2 separate regions of the Homo sapiens genome follow, and region 2 is linked to region 1. The links come from fine-mapping of genetic effects on gene expression. Tissue or cell type: lung. Region 1 holds a variant in brackets; the other region holds the start of a gene. Each region is shown on its reference strand, or each on the opposite one.

Region 1 (2,907 bases):
TTTTTCAACTTCTTTGTGTTGTGATGTATTCTGTTTTTTTTTGTTTTGTTTTGTTTGTTTGTTTTTAAACAAATGAGAGTCCTATGTCTGGTGCAGTCTCCTCTTAGGGGAATCAGAACATGGAAACTTCTAAACATAAGAACAGATGAGCTCCTGCATTCTTTACCAGTTCTTTGGGTCATAAGTATGGGGGAAGGCCTCCTTCCATTTACTGCATTTTGTGGCCTGACTGGACATCAGTGGGTCTGGACCCCCCACAGCTCATGAATCACCTGGCAGGAGGGGTCAAAACAAGGTCATATTCACACTCTTGCTTCCAAGGCTCTAAAAACTTAGCTGTCTCCAGCTAGTGCTGCATGGTTAGCCCTTGCCAAGTCTCCATGGGAACTGGAGTGCTTCTCCATGCTCCCTGTGGCCCTTCTCAGGTAAACTAGATGCACCTCAGCTGGGTTGGGAGTGTAGGGGGAAGTAATGTTTGGCACTACAGAGGGACCTGAATGGGTGGGGCATCTCAGCACTCACTGCCCTCCAACTTCACTCTCTGTCCTGGTCCTCCAGACCCACTGCTTGATTCCTGACTACTGTAGAACACATAACTGGTTAATAACTCCAGGATATGATGCAAGATATGGCTATAGAGATTTCCAGGGCAAGGTGACAGTTTGGAGCCAAGTCATAAAACTTTTACAACAACCTGAATATAATTTTTTTAAAGCATTGAAAAAAATGAAAGAGGTTATAACATTTGAAAGACATTATGGAGGGTAGAGCAAGGTGGCTGAATGGAGGGCACCATCGATGGTCCCACCCTCTCGGTAGGAACATCAAGTTTGACAACTGTCTATGCAAAGGGAGCATCTTCATAGGAACCAAAAATCTTGTGAACACTCACAGTGTCTGATTTTAACTCTATATCACTAAAAGAGGCACTGGAGAGGGTAGGAAAGACAGTCTTGAATTGCCATCCCCACCCTGCCTCCATCCCTAGCAGCAGCCACATGGCATGGAGAATCTGTGCACTTGGGAGAGGGAGAGTACAGTACGTGTGAGACTTTGCCTTAAATTCATGGCTGCCCTCTGACAGCAGAAAGCAGCACAGGGCTGTACTCAGCTGTGCCTGCCCATAGAGGGAGCATTTGAACCAGCCCTAGCCAGAGGGAAATGTCCTATCCCAGTGATGGGAGATTGAGTTCCAGCAAACCTCCCCACCATGGACTAAAGGGCTCTGGGACGCTAAATAAACTTGAAAGGCAGCCTAGGCCACAAGGACTGTAATTTCTAAGCAACTCCTAGTGCTGAGCTGGGTTCAGAGGCAGCGAACAGGAAGGGGGC[G/A]TGTGACCTACTGAGACACCAGCAACAAAGGTTAAAGGAGTACTTGCAACACTTCTCCCGTAACCCCAGGAAGCACAGTTCAGAACTCCAAATGAGACCCTTCCTTCTGCTTAAAGAAAGGAGAGGGAAGATGTATTACTTTGTTTTCATGCTGCTAATAAAGACATACCTGAAACTAGGAACAAAAGGTTTAATTGGACTTACAGTTAGTTCCACATGGCTGGGGAGGCCTCAGAATCACGGCAGGAGGTGAAAGGCACTTCTTGCATGGTGCTGGCAAGAGAAAAATGAGGAATTAGCAAAAGGAGAAACCCTTGATAAACCCATCAGATCTCATGAGACTTATTCACTATCACGAGAACACCATGGGAAAGACCGACCCCCATGATTCAATTACCTCCCCGTTGGTCACTCCTAAATTTCTCCATCCTCCCCTCTAGAGGACAGAAGAAGACTGCAAACAATACAATTTTTTGTAATTTGTCTAAGGCCCTGGTCAACTCCCAGTCTGAAAGCAGCAAATCCAGATGTTGAGTGTGTAGCTGGAGGAAAAGACTCAAGAGGCCCCTGTGCAGTTGTAGGCTCTCCCTCCCTGCTACCTCAGCAATTCACACACACTTCCTAGTGAAATAACTCCAGAATATATGGTGTCAATTATAGGAATGCCTCTCAATCTCTACCAAAATTGATACATTTGAATAAATAGACCTCGCCAGCTCTCAGGGAACAGTAATGCTATTCTTTCACATTCCTTAGCTTCTATGGGAATTCTTCCTTTTTCTAACTGGGCAGGGGTTTTACTGTTGAGTGGAAGAACTGGAAAGATCATTATTCAAAATGACAGTGAGAAAATGTTTTAATTTGTTAATGTTTGAACTCTGATATTAGGATTAAATCTGTGAAATTAAGATTGTACTGCTGGTTTAATGCACCATTAAACATGAGGTTTCTGTGAATAGTATTAAGTTCCAATACAAAACGGCAGCCCTACCTGTGCCCTGGAGTCCCAATGTATGAGGATGGGGTGATCCTGGGGAGTAGACTGTTCTGCACAGTAGGGTGGGCAGATATTACATCTCTGTGTCCCTATCACTGCGAATCCCAAGGAGTCCATGCCTTGACTGTACCTGGAAACTCATTCTCTTTGTAATAGACCAGGGATAAGGAACAAACTTGGACAACATTAGCGTCTCTTCTCGCCAATAAGTAGCTTTTTTGCAGCACAAAGAGAAATCTCCAGAACTGGTAGGATTTCTCCATAGATCAGAAACCTGCCCTCCAGTCTTGGTTGCTGCTCTTGTTACACTTGGTCCCAGGGGACTGTCTTTTTTATTTAACTTCTGCTTTCTACTTTTACTTTTCTGCTATTTAGGGAAACCATGAAGCCAGAACCACAACAGAACAGAAAGCAGCTCTGTGTGAATGGGCAGAAGGATAAAGGGAGTGAATGATCAAGGAAACCCTGGTGATATGAGACTGCATCCTGGAATGCTGAGAGCCAGGGAAGGAATGTACCAGGTGCCAGAATCAGTCAATAAACATCATGTGTCTTCTGCAGTTCAAACTAGATGCTTC
Region 2 (2,907 bases), not on the chromosome of region 1:
CAGCATTTCAAATCAGTTGAAAAAAAGGAAGTATTAAGAAATGGTATTGGGACATAGGCTAAGCCTTTGGAAAAGCAAATAAATCTAGCTCCCCTCCTACCTCAGTACTGAAAATTCCAAGCGTACGAAAAATTTTAACTTAAAAAAAAAAACCTTAAAATTACTACAAAAATGAGTACATTTTTTAAAACACTGGGAGTGTGGATAGCTTTCCAGCCTAACATAAAACCCATAAGCCTTAACAGACAAAAAAATTGACAGACTACCCCCCAAAAAATGCACTAAAAACAACATGCACAAAAGGCAAAGTGAGAAAAATATTACATGTACGACGTGCAAAAGGCTATTCTTATTCAATATTCAAATACCTCTTCCATACAAATAAGAAAAAGATTTAACAACTCAAATTTCTAAAAGCCAGGCAAAGATAAACAGGCAATTTACCGAAAAAGGAACGCAAACGTCCAGTAGTTAAACGCAAAATAAACTCGCAGCAAGATACCAATTTCTTCACTCCACAGATGGGCAAAATTTTAAAGAACGCGGGCAACTATTTCCCCCACTTCGATGAGAATGTGGGAGAAGTGCAACTGAAGGCCAAGGTAAAATCCCATCACTGAGAACGACTCCCAAAGTTGGAGCAGTGACTACTTTCTCAAAACGAGACAGTGGGAGATGCGGCGGGCGGGGGACGGGGGTACAAACTTGAACAGAAACCTATGAGAAAGCCAGACTGGCTAAAAGGATGAAGACGGTGCCCGCATGCCCCGCACCGGCCACTTTGCTGAGCGGAGGATCCGCTGGTCGCCAGTATCCCGCTCACCCCGCGCCTGACACTGACCGGGATAAAAGACAGCTCAGGTGCGCCGTCGGCGAAACTATCCGAGCCAGGCGCGCGTCTGCGGCCTTCTGGGCTCTCCTCCCTCAGGCGCGGACCCCCGGCTGCCCGCCCCTCACAGCCCTCAGCCCTCACCCCTCACAGCCCTCACAGCCCTCACACACCAGCCCCACTCACTCGGCGTCCGGGCGCCGCCGCTCCCGGCGAGCAGCTGGTGAACCTGGACGCCCGCCCCGCCGCGTTCCAAGACCGCGAGGCGCCCCGGCGAGCAGCAGAGTTGGCGCGTCACCTCCACCCTCCGGAGCAGCGCGCGGTGGAGGCCCGCGGCGCTGGGAAAGAGCCAGAGCTGTGCGCCCGGAGACTTCGCGGGCTGGGTCGCGGCGGCCTTGCCCGCGGTCGAGCGCCCGTTGCGCCGCGACTTCCTCCGCGACCTCCGCTCCATCGCCGCTTTGCGGGGTCCCAGGCCCAGAGGCGAGAGGAGAGAACGCCTGGTCCCGGGACTGAGCGCGCCCACTGCCTCAGGCGTTGCGCTGCAGAGCGGGAACCAGCTGCGCGCAGCTGCGTGGCGTCGGGGAACCGCAGCCTCAGCTACTGAGCCCCTGCCGGGACGCCACGCCCCCCACGTGCTGTTTGGGGGCGGGGCCTGCAGCTCCAGTGGAAAACGAAACATAATGTTTGTTGTTGTTTTTAGGGGGCGGAATCGAAAAGGAAAAGGAAACTGTAATGAGAGTGACTTGGCAGGCGGCCAAAGGCAACAGGTCGTTGGCTGGGGTAAAGGCCGATGGGCTGGACTGAGAAAGTGTCCCCGGGCGGGCAGCGGCCACCTTAACTCCTGGACGGAATGGCTTTCGAGGAAACGCTGCAGTTCCACTAGGAGGCACCCTGACACACGCATTTCCAGAGGGAGGGATAACGGAAGCCAAAGTTTGTTAAGCGTTGTGCGCCGCGGCCGGGCGCGGTGATTCACGCCTGTAATCCCAGCACTTTGGGGGGCCGAGGCGGGCGGATCACGACGTCAGGAGATCGAGACCATTCTGGCTAACACGGTGAAACCCCGTCTCTACTAAAAATACAAAAACAAAATTAGCTGGGCGTGGTGGCGGGCGCCTGTAGTCCCAGCTACTCGGGAGGCTGAGGTGGGAGAATGGCGGGAACCCGGGAGGCGGAGTTTGCAGTGAGCCGAGATTGCGCCACTGCACTCCAGCCTGGGCGACAGAGCGAGACTATGTATCAAAAAAAAAAATGCGTTGTGCGCCGGGCTGAAACCGGCATAAAACTGGGCAGAGCTATGCAGGCAGCTACCCTCCCCCCCACCCCTACCCCCACCCCCACCCCCCTCGTGCCCGCTCCGCTACGTATTCCCGTATTCCCGGGTGCCTGGCAACAGTGATGTGCTTTAGGCCTTTTTTAGAATGCATACAAACGGAACCATATCTAAGTGATGTCTGGCTTTTTTAACTTAGCACAATGCTTTGAGATTCATACTATTGTGTTTAATTAGTAATTCATTTGTGTTATTGTTGAATGGTAGTCTATCATATGGGTAAGCCACAGTTTATTTATCCATTCACCAATTGATGGGCCTGTCGGTTGTAGGGAACAGGAGAAAACTTCCCCTTTGCCCTCTGAAGGGTCACCGAAAATCAACTGACAAGGCTGGGCCTGGGCTCCTGCCTGTAACCCCAGCCCTTTTTTAGCCCAAGGCAGGAGGATCTCTTCTTTGTGAAGTGTGTATTCAAATCTTTTGACCATTTATTTATTAGCTAGCTTGACTTTTTATCTAAGAGTTCTTTATATATTATTGAGTTCTTTATATGTTTCATACCATGTTCTTTATTAGCTATACGTTTTGAAATGTTTTCTACCTGTCTGTGGCTTGCCTCTTCATTTTAAGTGTCTTTTGAAGCACTGAAGTTTTCAATTTTGATGTAATTTATCCATTTTTTTCTTTTACATAGTTCATACCTTTTTTGTCCTACTTAAGACATTTTTGCTAAATTCAAGATTATAAGATTTCCTCATTTGTTACCTTCTGGAAGTTTTATAATTGTTGGTCTTCATTATATTTA

What was found. PIP is the estimated chance that this variant, and not a neighbour inherited with it, causes the effect.
Region 2: HERC5 starts here. The variant in region 1 is the best candidate, but not a certain one, in a credible set for the expression of HERC5 in lung (TOPMed, PIP 0.68).

What each region holds. Positions count from the first base shown.
Region 1 is chr9:21,412,130-21,415,036 of GRCh38, reverse strand. No RefSeq gene overlaps it. Among named protein-coding and RNA genes, the nearest start is that of IFNA8, 4.5 kb to the right of the region's middle. The variant G/A (reference allele first, on the strand shown) is at 1,333.
Region 2 is chr4:88,455,643-88,458,549 of GRCh38, reverse strand. It overlaps HERC5 (HECT and RLD domain containing E3 ubiquitin protein ligase 5), which reads right to left and starts at 1,431. Exons shown (of 23, transcript NM_016323.4): 1 at 1,016-1,431. The coding sequence starts at 1,280. The region is part of intron 1 of LOC102723458 (a long non-coding RNA gene); the gene reads left to right. RefSeq lists an enhancer at 1,372-1,801.